4 linked regions of the Homo sapiens genome follow. The protein of the gene in region 1 interacts with the protein of each later gene in a pairwise test. Each region holds a gene or a part of one and is shown on either strand. Other genes may lie near its edges.

The links. Proteins that work in one complex are often made in the same cells at the same time.
Region 2: the proteins of TSEN15 (region 1) and IKZF3 interact in binary tests that used the Homo sapiens proteins (3 or more experiments, as listed by UniProt).
Region 3: the proteins of TSEN15 (region 1) and POU6F2 interact in binary tests that used the Homo sapiens proteins (3 or more experiments, as listed by UniProt).
Region 4: the proteins of TSEN15 (region 1) and ZNF554 interact in binary tests that used the Homo sapiens proteins (3 or more experiments, as listed by UniProt).

What each region holds. Positions count from the first base shown.
Region 1 is NC_000001.11:184,058,230-184,061,729, forward strand, and holds part of TSEN15 (tRNA-splicing endonuclease subunit Sen15), read left to right. Parts: exon of another isoform or gene 1-11; intron 12-3,500. UniProt on the Homo sapiens protein: Non-catalytic subunit of the tRNA-splicing endonuclease complex, a complex responsible for identification and cleavage of the splice sites in pre-tRNA. It cleaves pre-tRNA at the 5' and 3' splice sites to release the intron.
Region 2 is NC_000017.11:39,857,813-39,861,312, reverse strand, and holds part of IKZF3 (zinc finger protein Aiolos), read left to right. Parts: intron 1-3,500. UniProt on the Homo sapiens protein: Transcription factor that plays an important role in the regulation of lymphocyte differentiation. Plays an essential role in regulation of B-cell differentiation, proliferation and maturation to an effector state.
Region 3 is NC_000007.14:39,341,409-39,344,908, forward strand, and holds part of POU6F2 (POU domain, class 6, transcription factor 2), read left to right. Parts: intron 1-3,500. UniProt on the Homo sapiens protein: Probable transcription factor likely to be involved in early steps in the differentiation of amacrine and ganglion cells. Recognizes and binds to the DNA sequence 5'-ATGCAAAT-3'. Isoform 1 does not bind DNA.
Region 4 is NC_000019.10:2,818,479-2,822,667, reverse strand, and holds the start of ZNF554 (zinc finger protein 554), read right to left. Parts: upstream 2,801-4,189; 5' UTR 2,597-2,800; coding exon 2,544-2,596; intron 1-2,543. UniProt on the Homo sapiens protein: May be involved in transcriptional regulation.

The DNA.
Region 1 (3,500 bases):
ATGATAACTTGGTAAGCCATTTTGATGCTGTTGCATTTAATAACTGAGAGAGCTTAAATCTTTATGTCTTGTTTTTATATAAATATTCTTAACTATATTATACAGTAGAATACTAATATAGAATGTAGCACAAATGAGGCCTGATACATACTAGATTTATATGCCTTTTAGTGCATAACATTTTCTCAACTCAAACTATGCAAATAACTTTTTAACAAATGGAAATGTGTGGGTGTATATGTGTGTATGTGTGATTTCATTATTCAGTCTTTAACAGGGCAGTCTTTTAGGTAGTAGGCATACTTTTATCTATTTTTACTTTTAGTGTATTTTATAATATAAAATGTTATATATCTAACAGTAATGCTGCAATTCCAGCCTTTCATAGTTAATGTGGGAATTTTTCTGTGTTAGTAACACAGAGAAGAAAATGATTGATGTTGAGTCTCTGATAACCTTGTATAGCAAAGAAATTCATTGGGACATGTCCTAAAAGTATTTGGTGGGAAGATGTGAGGGCAACTCACCATGAAAGAAAAAATACTTTTTATTTAAGAGGGAAAACAGCTTTTACTTATTCAGTGATAAAACATCTACATAAATTAACGATTCTGTTTTCACTTTTAAATATTATTATTTGTCAGATAATATTGCTTGGGCTTTTTGGTCTTAACAATTATTTATTGAGTGACTCTTATGTGTCAGGCAATGATCTAGGTGCTGGGGATACCATGATAACAAATACTTTCATGACATCCTCATGAAAGTAGTATTCTAGCACTGAATATTCGCTTAGAAAATACTTTTTTTTTTTTTTTTGGTAATTGTTGGATGGAATTTTAAAAAACAGAATTGCCCTTTGTTCAGATATTTAATTGAATGTGTGATTTGGGACTGCCTTCACTTATTTTGTAGCTAGATAATTGAATAACAAGTATTATGGAGTACTGATAAGTAGTTTAACAGGGATATGTACAAAATTATGTCAAAACCCAGAGGAAGGACAGGAAAAGTCTCTTTAGCCAGTAAGAGACCATGGTTTAGTAGGGTAACTGCAAGTAATTAAGCATGATTGCCTACCTAGCATGGTGTCTAGTCAGAGTAGGTGTCTAGTAATATTCCTTAAGGCAGCAAATGAATGAATGAATGAATGAATAAAATTTCAGAGAAAAGAGGGAAAGGATGGAAAATTAGATGGGAAAGTTTATTTAGATTATGAAGGCCATCATTGTTTTTACTTTTTTGCTATTACTAATGGTATTCTAATGAATAGCCTTGTGAGTACCTCCTTGTACTCATGTATGAGAGTTTTCCTAAGAATAGCTGGGACATGTATACCTTTATACCTTCTTTTTTTTTGAGATGGATTCTGGCTCTGTCACTCAGGCTGGAGTGCAGTGGCACAATCTCGGCACACTGCAGTCTCCGCCTCCCGGGTTCAAGTGATTCTCCTGCTTCAGCGTTCTAAGTAGCTGGGATTACAGGCATGCACTACCATGCCCAACTAATTTTTTGTGTTTTAGTAGAGACAGGTTTTTGCCTTATTGGCTAGGCTGGTCTCGAACTCCTGACCTCAAGTTATCTGCCCGCCTTGGCCTCCCAAAATTCTGGCATTACAGGTGTGAGCCACTAGGCCTGGCCTATCCCTTCATCTCTACTGGTTATTGCTAAATTGTTTTCAAAAGGATTATTACCAGTTTACACTTGCACTTGCAATGTGTAAGTTTTCACAGACTGGGAGAAGATTTATAACATGTGCATAACTGACAGGTTAATTTAGAATTAGCTTCTGTGATTTCAGAAAAAAAATCCCAATGGGAAACATGGGCAAAGAATATGAACAGGCAACTCACAGAAGAGGAACTCAAATGCTCAAATATGTTTGTAAATGAAGGAATTACAAATATAAAATGTGTTTGTGTTGTCTTAACTTTGAAGAAGACTTGCAGACAGTTTGTTTTTATTTTTTGACAGAAATAAGGTACTGTTTAATGGGGAACTTTTGAACAGAACTACAGCTAGCACTTAGAGAGTCTCTGAACAGTTTAGGAAAAGGAGCTCCCTCTCGACATGCAAAGGAAAATGTCTCTTCACTAAGGTTCAAGGCTTGGCGAACAATGAAGGCCAGATTTTAGATCCACTTGTGCCAGGCACCGTTGTGCAAAGCACAATCTGCATATCTGTACATGATGCCCTGCCCCTGAAGCATGTCTGTGGAGTCTTAGGTTTCCACAAAGAACACTATGAAAATTACTGCTAAATGGGTGGTGTCATTGAAGGGCTTTAAGCAAGGAAGTGAGACTATTGTTTATTCTATGTGGTTTTAAGAATACTTTGCATTTGCAGAGAATGTTACAGAATTTCAAAGTATTTCAAAATATTTTTACAAGTAGACTTTCATTAAATCAGCACCAAAATCCCTAGTGGTATACGGGGTGTTTGTTTTATCCTAACTTTACATACAAAAAGCTGAGGTTAAAAGTATATTTTCATTTGTACCCCCACTTTTTCCAAAAGATAATAAAAGATTAAGTGAGCTGTACCACGGTCTCAGTTAGCCTCACAGCTATTAGAGTTTCTCTTGCTTTATTGGTTTTTAAAAAGATTTTATTGTAAATGAAACTAGATACGGAAAACCACACAATACCAATGTATAAATTAATGAGTTATAAGGCAAACGTCTAGAACTCTTGTAATTATAACTAAGTCAAGAAATAGAACTTTTCTAGGCACCCCACAAACTTTTCAATGTGCCCCATCCCAATCATAATCTTTCTTCCCCCCCAAAATAGCCATTATTCTTTCTTTTATAGTAATAATGGGCTTTGGCCCATATATTGTTCCCAGGACCTCTTAGTGCTAATTTGTCTTTTGACTCTCACTCAAGAAAGAATGTTGGAATATCACTGGTGAGACTGATAATATTATCAGGAATATTAGTTTTATATTTAAAAATACCCTGCCAACTTTACTACTCTATTGTTAGAAACAAATTACTTGCCACATACTATACAACCAACCTCAGCATACCAGTTGTAAATCACCATTTTAGACTGTGCGTCTTAGCTGCTTGAATATAGTGCTTTAAAAAATGCTTTGTAGTCCTCAAAAAACCTTAAATAACATTTTTATTAGTAGGAGAGTTGGGTAGCATACACAGCTGTAGAGCCAGAGGAGTTGGCAGTTTGCTGGAGCTACAATTTCTTATTATTTACAAAGAGCATATAGCACATAAGGCCTGATAACTGTCTCTTTTATTGAAGGAGACAAATTTTATAATCTGTTGTTTGTAAAACTGAACCAAACTCTGTCATTTACATAGTTAACTACAACTTAGTTATAAAGTATTTCCCTAGTGATGACAAATAGTCCCACTGTTTCAGTCACCACTTGACTGTTATGTGGCAGAGTGGCATGTATATTTATATGGTTTATTATTTATTTTATGGTGTATATGTATTTTCTGCCTCCTTAAAAAGTAATTGTTCTAAGGAGTGTTT
Region 2 (3,500 bases), on another chromosome or scaffold:
TCACCCCTACCCAGTCTCTCATGTTCCTTCACCTCAGCTAAGGGCCTCTCCTTTCTGTGTATACTTCTACCACATTGTGTTGAAATTATTTATTGATGTAGGTGTTTATTCCCCCTCTGGTCTTTAAGCTTCTGGAGAACAGAGACTGTGTCTTGTTTTTGTACACTGAATGCGAAGGACAGTTTCTGGTTCATAGAAGGCCCTCAGAATTTGTTGCATTCAATTAAAATAGTGCTGAAAAAGTACTTTTTATTATGTTTATTGTGATGCATTTTATTTAAATAAATTTTTAAAGTAGGAGATTGGGGCTAGTAATTCTTTGATAAAGCTCAGTAATTTTTTAAGCACTTAAACTGTATAATTGAAAAAGAAAGCTTGGAAAACAAAAATGTTATTGGATATTTTTTGCTAGACTGTCACTTAAAGCCAATTTTAACAAAATTAGATTTAGGGGGTACATGTGCAGGTTTCTTACATAAGTATATTATGTGATGCTGAGGATTGGGCTTCTATTGATCCTGTCACCCAAATAATGAGCATAGTGTCCTATAGGTAGTTTTTCAACCCTTGCCCTCCTCCCACCCTTCCCCATTTTGGGGTCATCAGTGTCTAATTTGGGGGTCACATTAATTCATAACAGTCCATGTGTACCCAGTGTTTAGCTCCCCGTCATAAGTGAGAACATGCGGTATTTGGTTTTCTGTTTCTGTGTTAATTCACTAAGAATAATGGCCTCCAGCTGCATCCATGTTGTTGCAAAGGATATGATTTCATTCTTTTTTGTGTAAAGCCAAATTTTAACTGTTAAATTTACATAAGCAGATTTCAGGATCGCAATTAGTCCATTAAAATATCCATTGAATATGAGCAGAAATTTGTTTTCTCAGTCAGTAAGATATAGATGATGCCATAAAAATAGCATACGCTTTCAAGTGATACTTTAAAAATACATTGTTATAAACTTTTCATTCATATATAAATGTATATACTTACACTTATTTAGGACTAAAAGATTATTGATTATTGGTAGATCTTTTATCAGACATCCAGTTTTTTTTTTTTATTATTATTTTTAAAGAGATAGTCCTTGCTCTGTTGCCCAGGCTACCACAAACTCCTAGGCTCAGACGATCCTCCTGCCTCAACCTTCTGAGTAGCTAGGACTACAGGCATCCACCACCATAACCTGGTAATTTATTGTACAAACCGCCATGACCTGCTGATTTATTATCTTTCATTTTTTGTAGAAATGGGGGTCTCACTATGTTGGTCAGGTTGGTCTTGAATTCTTGGCCACAAGTGATCCTTCCGCCTCAACCTTCCCAAGTGCTGGGATTACAGGAGTGAGCCACTGCACCTGGCCTAGATAGATGTCCAATGATAATTGGCTCATATGTCAAGCTATAGTTCCAGACCATGTATGAGAAGAACTGAGTGATTAACACAGAAACTTGCCTATAGTAGGTGCTCAATAAATGTCTTTTGTCCTAAGGATTCATTAATTATTTTGAAAAGAGACCCTACACATCACAAGGCCATAGAATGTACTCTGCTATTTAGCCTTTATTAAATTTAGCTCCATATTAACTGGTATATTTATGATAATTAGAAATTATAAGGATGAGGCCAGGAGTGGTGGCTCACGCCTGTAATCCTAGCACTTTGGGAGGCTGAGGCGGGCAGATTGCTTGAGCCTGGGACTTCAAGACCAGCCTGGGCAACATGGTAAAACCCTGACTCTACAAAAACTACAAAAATTAGCCAGGTGTGGTAGCACATGCCTGTAGTAACAGCTACTTGGAAGGCTGAGGTAGGAAGATGGCTTGAGCCTGGGAGGTCGAGGCTACCGTGAGCCATGAGCATGCCACTGCACTGACATGAGCATGCCACAGCCTGGGCAACAGAGCAAGACCCTGTCTCAAAAAAAAAAAAAATCATAAGGATGACACCAAGGCCTTTTGGATCACTAAAAAAAAGATGCAATAATGAAACAATAATTATAATTTATTTATAATATATATAGATTGTTTGAAAAGTAATCTGTGTATAACTTTATTAATTAATATTACTATATAACTCATCAAAATACTTTTATCCCTAGTGATTCTGAATGAGGTTATTTTTTCAGTCTAATTGAAATCTGGTTTTTGCATCCAAAATTAAAAGTTTTTTTTTTAATTAAAAAGTTACTTAAAAAATTTAAGGGCTGGGCACAGTGGCTCACACCTGTAATCCCAGCACTTTGGGAGGCCAAGGTGGGAGGATTTCTTGAGGCCAGGAATTTGAGACCAGCCTGGGCAACATGGTGAGGCCCTGTTTCATAAAAAATAATAATAAAATAAAAGTAAATTGGCCTGGTGTGGTGGTGTGCACTTGTCCCAGCTACTTGGGAGGCTGAGGTGGGAGGATGGCTTGACCTGGGAGTTTGAGGCTTCAGTGGGCTGTAATGACGCCACTGCACTCCAGCTTGGGCAACAGAGTGAGAACCCATCTCAACAACAACAACAAAAAATGTAAGTCCAAAGTGGTATACAGTAAATGAAAATAATATGGAATTACCGTATTATATTAAATACCAATACCATATGAAAATATTATGTTAGATATGTGTCCAATCCAGGAGATATTTAAAAACTGGGTACTTGATGGTTACAGGCGCCTGTAGTCCCAGCTACTCGGGAGGCTGAGACAGGAGAACTGGTTGAACCTGGGAGGTGGAGGTTGCAGTGAGCCAAGATCGCGCCACTGCACTCCAGCCTGGGTGACAGTGTGAGACCCCATCTCAAAACAAACAAACAAACAAAAAACTAGGTACTTGGTAATGGATATGAAACAAAGTGCATTACTCTTTACTTATTGTCAGTACTTAAAATCAGCTTACTGAGTGATTTTTTATAACAGTGGAATTGGCAATATGTCACAAATTGTACTTAGTAGTGTTCTTAGAGATGAAATTTTTGGCAGATTAGGTTATTGTGGGTTTACAAAGGAAACTTTTCTTTCTTTCCTTTTTTTTAATAGAGACATAGTCTTGCTATGTTACCCAGGCTGGTCTTGAACTCGTGAGCACAAAAGATTCTCCTGCCTTGGCCTCCCAAAGTGCTAGGATTACAGATGTGAGCCACCAATGCCCAGCCAATGAAGGAAACTTTTAAAATAAGAAATGGAAAACATTTCAATACTGTCACTCATGAAACAGAACAAAACTATTATTTTTCTACTCTGAATTATCTAAGGATTATGCAACTAAGTTTCTTGTTTATTTTGTTGATTAATACACCTATAGCCCCTTCTAGACTGTTATTTTCCAAAGTTTAGGGATCTCTCTCTCTCTCTTTTTTTTTTTTTTTAATTTTTGAGATGAGGTCTCTCTACATTGCAGGCTGGTCTCAAACTCCTGGGCTCAAGCGATCCTCCCACCTCATCCTCTTGAGTAGCTGGGACTAGAGGCATGTGCCACCATGCGTAGCTGGGGATCTTTTTATAATCGGTGGTAACTA
Region 3 (3,500 bases), on another chromosome or scaffold:
TAGGACTAAAATGAACATGGTCCAAAAACGTCTTCATTGTCCACTTGACACCTACTGAAAGAGCAGGTGTCATCAAATTTACAGAAGGCATGATTACAGCAACCTTAATGTTGGCAGCATTTGGGATTCAACTTTATTATTCCAAAAAATTAATTTAATGCTTTTTAAGAACACTTACATTAGATGTACCTATATACCATCTAATTTCTCTATTCCAGGCACCAAAATAGGTAAAATTACCAAAGAAAAATATTGCCCTTCCTTGAGGAGTGAAATTACTTAGGTGTGTCCCCAGTTGTCCGATATAGTCCAGTATTCCTTCCTGTTAGGTGAAAGTTTTGAGCTCTGTGGACCTCAGCCTTCCCTGAACACTGTCAGTGTTTTATAAATTTCTGTTGGCCAGTGAGATCCCAGTGAAGACAAGCCCTGTTGAATGACTGTTGACAGGACTTTAGATGAAGTGACCACGCAGCCTCATGAAAATAAACTTAGGGGAATTTCCGAAAGTTCTCCTAACAGTTTCTCGTGGAAATCCCAGGGCTGTTTGTTTTGTTTTGGTTTTGCAACAAATGAAGGCTCAGAGCTACATTTCTTTCTTTGTAACACTGAGAGAATATTCTAATTTTTCATTTTTGAAGTTTTAACTTATAAACTTAATAAATATGTTTAGAGTACATTTAAATATAGAGGAGCTGTTACTCTAACTTCTGTGGATCTAACAGATGACCACCAAATGAGTGACTTGCTACAAATTTTTTTTAAAACATTACTGAGAAGATGTTAAACAAATCTGTGTCGGTAGGCATAAAAGGACTTTTTTCCTTTACTACAGGCATGTATAAAGGAAATAGAGAATATTTTGGTTTAAAAAAAATTTTTACACTAGCTGCAGGCTTTTTGAGTTTGTGGAACATGGAATGTTTGAACTTTTTAAAAAGAAAACTGTTTAAAAGGAATTGCAAAGATATTTAACTCTCCAAACTAATGATCTTTATAAAGTGTTTTTGTTTGAAGATTATTAAGGGAATAAAGATCAACTAAATTCATGTATGATAGCCTAAATTTTATTTTACAACCCTTTATTTTCATGTGGGCTTTATCTTTTTACATTATTCAAAAATCTGCTGGAGAGATATTAGTTTAGAACTATGCAATGTAGATTACCAGGGAAAGCCAGTCAATTAGGTTTTTTGCTTTAAAAACAAAACTTTGGAGGACAACAATTATTTCTAAAACTGTGCAGATGCTCCCATATCTTTAGAAAAAAATAAATGTAAGTAGGTTGTGTGTTATATTTGGGTGAGGTCATTTCCTGAGATGAAAAAAAATTAATAGTGTTGGTAGGTAGTAACACTCTAAACAAAAATTATCCAAATACCTCGTATCAGGCTTTTCTGCAATATTGCAGTGTAATTTTATTTTACTCTTTTACTGAATTCTGTGAAAAGGATTACATTTACAAAACCAAGTTGTTTTAAGATAGATAGGAGTCTAAAGTATTATCCTTTCAGAGACGCACAGGTAGGGGGATCACTTTGTTTATTAATTTTGATCACTCAGCATTATAGGAGGTCTGGTGGTCTAAAGCAGACTCTAGAAGCTGCCCCTGGAGATCTGTCTATAGATTCTCCATTGAGACTCAGGACCCACCCACCCATGGCTTCGTTCTTGCCCAGGAGGCTTGAGGAGAGAAGTTCTAGACAGGAAATGCAAGGGCAGAGGTCTTCAGGGCCTAGCAGTCCCTGTAAATAAGTAAAGTAATCTTGGTTGTAGAACCCAAAATCAAATTTATAAAAACAGTGTGTGGGACAAACAAGATGCACTGTGAGCTGAATTTAGTCCTTGGGTGCCAGGATGGAGAGCAGTCCATACTCCTTATTTTTGCTCAAACCCACAGTCCACAGGCTGTGCCTGAATCTAAAACTAAAAATATAGACTGTGTTTGATAGAAGCAGAAACATAAATGGAAGCAATCTTTTGGGGCAAAAAACATGATCTAGGTAAAAAAAAAAAAAAAATTCAATACGTAATTTTAATCTGGATAGAGACCCCATAAGCATAAGAATGGTGAAATAAAAGCCTCCTTTCTATGACCTTTAAGAAGAATTTTCTTGAAAAGAAAACTCCTTGGGAGTTTTTATTTGCACTGGTAAAATTTCAGACATCTTATAAAAGCCCTATTGTGCACATATTCCCTCTTGAGTGGTCTGGAGATATGCTGGGCATGGTTGGAGCCCAGTCATGGTGTAGGTGGAAGAGGGTAACCGGAGGGCTTGAGTCCCCCTTCTAGTTCTGACCCTGCCTCCAACTAACTCATAACTTTGGATAGGTCACTTTAGCTCTCTGGACTTCATTTCCCTCATCCGTGTGGTCTGAGGTCTTTTTCAGGCCTATGAATCTATAATCTCAATGTTAGTAGGCCTCTGGAATTTTATTGGCTATTGAAAACTTGATGGTCCTGAAGATTCTCTGAGTATTCTTCAAGGTCAGGTTAATTTCTTCCCACTCAGCTGGGTGGCAGAGTGAAAAGAGAGTGGAGGACAAACATAAGTGGGATAATGATAGCAGAAGCAGATTTTATCTTAGCCAGAGAGTCCAAATTAAAGTCAAGTTTTTATCCTCAGAGAGTCACTGCTATAAGCTCTGGTCCCAGATTGCTTTTCCACACCTATACATTAGAGAAGCTTAAGAAACCAAATGCTGCATTTAACCTTGGCCTCCCACGTACCATCTTGCATGGCAGGACGCAGGATAATCTTTTCCTTTTCTTGTTCTATTGCACATTTTAATAAATAACAGAGGGAGAGAGAGATCAGTAGGAATTGGACAGTGAAAACTATCTGTGCTTATATGAGGAATGAGGGGCACGGTCACCTCCTCGGAGGTGAAGTTGCTTGAGAGCGTGAAATGTATTCTCAACCATGTGCATTTGCTAATGGAAAGGTCTAGTTACCACTCAGGCACAGCAGAGTAAAACTGCATCGGAATCCCACCTCTGTTGCGCAGTGGGCATTGCCTTCTGGTCTTCCCATTTGAGATATTTTCCCACTGGCAAACTTAGTACTAAGTTCCAAAGTGCATACATAATGGGAGAAGGTGGTACATTATCACTTTTTAAAATAAAGAGCCCAAAGCCTTGGGAAGGAGCTAGACCTACGGGACTTTCAAGTTCTCTAAAGCAAATGGTCTCCAATCATGGGTCTGCCCTATGGAAAAGACCCAGTGTCCTAGGCCAAACCCCCTCCCCCCCCAGCAATTAGTCTTAATCGGTTTACCACAATATTACTCAAGGCTCTGTGGGACTAGGTTTGTTTTTTCATCTATAAAAGGGAGGGGGTAAAATTAAATACTTTCTAGAACTCCTTCAGTTCCATTGGAGTTTTATGTTACAAACCCCTAAAACTGTGTAGAGTTGGGTGACTCTGTGGGTGTATTCATATAACTCCTTTGTGTGGCTACTGTAAATATAGAACTCAGACATCTCTCTACCTACACAGGGC
Region 4 (4,189 bases), on another chromosome or scaffold:
GCTCAAGGGATCCACCTTCCTCAGCCTCCCTAAATTCTGGGATTAAAGGTGTGAGACGCCACACACATCCATGGCCAGGGGTCTTAAAGGCCCCATTTTATGGATGAAGGTCCTGAGGCCCTTGGAAGCAAACAAGTTTACAAAACACCCAGGCTCCATTAGGAAGTGAAGCGCTCCATGCATTTCCTGAGGCTGTTTTCACAAGGTGCCAGTAACCCGGGGGCTTAAAATAACAGGAATATATCCTTTCCCAGTTCTGGAAGTCTGAGATCAAGGTGTGGGCAGGGCTGTACTCCCTCTGAAGGCTCTAGGGAAAAGCTCGGGTATGGTGGCTCATACTTGTAATCCCAGCACTTTGGGAGGCTGAGGCGCGAGGATCACTTGAGCCCAGGGGTTCAAGACCAGCCTGGCCAACATGGTGAAACCTCGTCTACTAAAAATACAAAAAAAATAGCCAGGTGTGGTGGCACATCCCTGTAAACCCAGCTACTCAGGAGGCTGAGGCACGATAATTATTTGAACCTGGGAGACAGGGGTTACAGTGAGCCAAGACTGTGCCACTGCACTCCAGCCTGGGCAATGGAGCAAGACTCTATCTCAAAAAGAAAAGATAAGGAAAAGAAGAAACAAAAGCTCTCAGGAAAAATCCTTCCGCCTCTTCCAGCTACTGGGGTCATGAGTATTGTCCTTATAAGAGAAAGAGACAGCTGGACTAGGTGACTCACGTCTGTAATCCCAGCATTTTGAAAGGCCAAGGCGGGCAGACCACGAGGTCAGGAGTTCGAGACCAGCCTGGCCAACATGGCAAAACCCCCGTCTCTACTAAAAATACAAAAATTAGCTGGGTGTGGTGGCGTGCACCTGTAATCCCAGCTACTCGAGAGGCTGAGGCAGAATTGCTTGATCCTGTGGGGTAGAGATTGCAGTGAGCCGAGATCGTGCCACTGCACTCCAGCCAGGTGACAGACCGAGACCCCATCTCAAAAAATAAAAATAAAAACAAAAAAGGAGAAAGAGACACAGGGAAGAAGGCCACATGATGATGCAGGCAGAGCTTGGAGTGATGTGGCCCCAAGCCAAGGGACACCAACTATGGCAGGCCACCCCCAGAAGCTGGAAGAGACAGAGAAGATCCTCCCGCCAGAGCCTTCAGAAGCACCACGGCCCCACCACATCTTCATGTTGGGCTTCTGGCCTCCAGACTTGTGAGAGAATAAATTTCAAGCCTCCCCCTGCCCCCTGGTTTGTGGTGCATTGTCACAGCAGCTCCAGGAGGCTCATGTAAGAACCAAAGGCGCCGGGCGCAGTGGTCACTTTGGGAGGCCGAGGTAGGTGGATCACCTGAGGTCAGGAGTTCGATACCAGCCTGGCTGGCCAACATGGAGAAACTCTGTATCTACTAAAAATATAAAAATTAGCCAGGCGGGGTGGCGTGCACCTGTAATCCCAGCTACTTGGGAGGCTGAGGCAGGAGAATCACTTGAACCCACGAGGTGGATGCAGTGAGCCGAGATCGTGCAACTGCACTCCAGCCTGGGCAATAGGGCGAGACTGTCTCAAGAAAAAAAAAAGAAGAAGAAAAAGAAACCAACCTGTTTGGGTAGGGGAGAGTTCAGGGAGGTTGGGGTTGCTAGAGCAGCAGAAAGGTCAGCTGCCTCCCTCATTCCTCAACATGGGTGGTGGGTATAAACAGAATAGACCCTTGCAGCTGCGCGGTGGCTCACGCCTGTAATCCCAGCACTTTGGGAGGCTGAGGCGGGTGGATCACCTGAGGTGGGAGTTCGAGACCAGCCTGGCCAACATGGTGAAACCCCGTCTCTACTAAAAATGCAAAAATTAGCCGGGCGTGGTGGCATACGCCTGTAATCCCAGCTACTTGGGAGGCTGAGGCAGGACAATGGCTTGAACCCGGGAGGCGGAGGTTGCAGTGAGCCGAGATCATGCCATTGCACTCCAGACTCCGTCTCAAAAAAAAAAAAAAAAGGACCCTTGCTGTCTTATCACCAGGACAGCGGTGCTAACGTATAAGTGAGGTCTCTCCCTCAGGGCGCTGTGGACACTGGAGCCTGGGTCATTCTCTGGGCTGGGCAGGGTGCTGAGTTGCATCCCTGGCCTCCACCTACTCCATGCCAGGAACTGCCCCCAGTTATGACAACCACAGACGTCCCCAGACATCGCCCGGTGTCCCCTGGAGGGCAGGACCGCCCCTCGCTCAGACCCTCTGATGTGGCCTCACTGCAGTGCGAGCGTGGCAGCCCCTCTCTGCCTTTAGGGTAGAGTCAATGCGTCTTCTCCCTCTCCTTGCAGGCTGGGCCTCGGAAAGCTTATGCGTCTCTCACCCAGGGGCGTTTTCACAGGGCAAGGGCAGACCGTGCCATCCTGGGCGTTGGGGCCCTGGGCGAGCTGCCGGCTCCCGACCCTCCCGTGGGGACCCTATCGCGACAGGGTCATGCCCCGGCCACCCGGCCCCGCCAGACCCAGCCCCACCAGAGCCCCGGCAGGCCCGGCACGGAGGTCGCGGCGCGGGAGGCGGCGGCACTTACGGCTGAGCTGCCGGGAGCCGCGCGCGCCGGCCCAGGTGGGCGCAGGTGACCATCGGGGCGCGCGCTGAGGCGCCAGACAGGGCCCCCGAGGCGGGAGCGCCCCGTGCAGGCCGGCCGGCCTCCCCTGCGTGTCCCTGGGACGCCTCCTCCGCTCGGCTCCTCGGCGCTCGGAGCGGACGCCCCCCGCAGGCGCCCCTCAGGAACTCGCCGCAGCCGCCGCCACCAACCCCGACGCGCGCAGAGGTAAACTCGGCACTGCGCCTGCGCACCCCGAACCTGCGAACTACAAGTCCCAGCAGGCCCCGCAGCGCGGCGCTGGGCTCCTGACTCTCCAACCTGGGTCACAGCGCCGCCTCCGGGCGGGCGGCGTCTCCGCAGGACCACGATGCCCCTGCGGCTGTTGGATCCACCCCGTGTGGTTCGCTGGAGTCCCCGGGTGTTGTGGGGTTCGCGGAGCCAATCCTCAAATCCCAGCTCCGTCGTTTCCCGGCGGCTTGCCATTGGATATTAATAACTACTATTATTTATTAAGCAAGTTATATAAACGTATAATGTATTACATACTTATTAAAATGATTGCTTAAGTAATTGTTGTTTGTTTTTGAGACTGAGTTTCGCTCTTGTCGCCCAGGCTGGAGTGCAATGGCATGATCTCAGGTCACTGAAACCTCCGCCCCCTCGGGTTCAAGCGATTATCCTGCCTCAGTCTCCCAAGTAGCTGGGATTACGGGCGTGCACAACCACACTCGGCTAATTTTTTATATTTTTGGTAGCGACGCGGTTTCACCATGTTGGCCAGGCTGGTCTCGAACTCCTGACTTCCAGTGATCTGCCCGCCTTGGCCTCCCAAAGTGCTGGGATTACAGGCGTGAGCCACCACGCCCAGCCAAATTAAATTATTGTTTAAATATTTATTTAATATTCTACTGATTGTTATTTATGAGAAATTAAAATAGTAAAACTACTATAATTAATATACTGTTGTAGGATACAACAAATTCCTCTTCAAAGGTTTTAGCCTGTAAATTGTTAAGTACAATCAGTTATGAGCTCCTCTCCAAAGAACCAATGTTTCCGTATATTCAGCTCCCCTGTTCTTTTTTTTTTTTTTTTTGAGATGGAGTCTCGCTCTGTCGCCCAGGCTGGAGTGCAGCGGCGCGATCTCGGCTCACTGCAAGCTCCGCCTCCCAGGTTCACGCCATTCTCCTGCCTCAGCCTCCCAAGCAGCTGGGACCACAGGCGCCCGCCACCACGCCCGGCTAATTTTTTTGTATTTTTAGTAGAGACGGAGTTTCACCGTGTTAGCCAGGATGGTCTCGATCTCCTGACCTCGTGATCCGCCTGCCTCAGCCTCCCAAAGTGCTGGGATTACAGGCGTGAGCCACCGCGCCCGGCCACCTATTCTTTGTTCTTCATTTTAAACTTTAACTTCCTCGTTCTTTTCGTTTCCTTGCCCCTAGTTTCAGTAAACAACCCCTCCTAGCCCCTATCACCTGCTCTGACCTTAGTCACCCTTGGTCACCTGCTCTGACCTTAGTCATCCTTGGTCACCTGCTCTGACCTTAGTCATCCTTGTCACCTGCTCTGACCTTAGTCATCCTTGGTCACCTGCTCTGACCTTAGTCATCCTTGGTCACCTGCTCTGA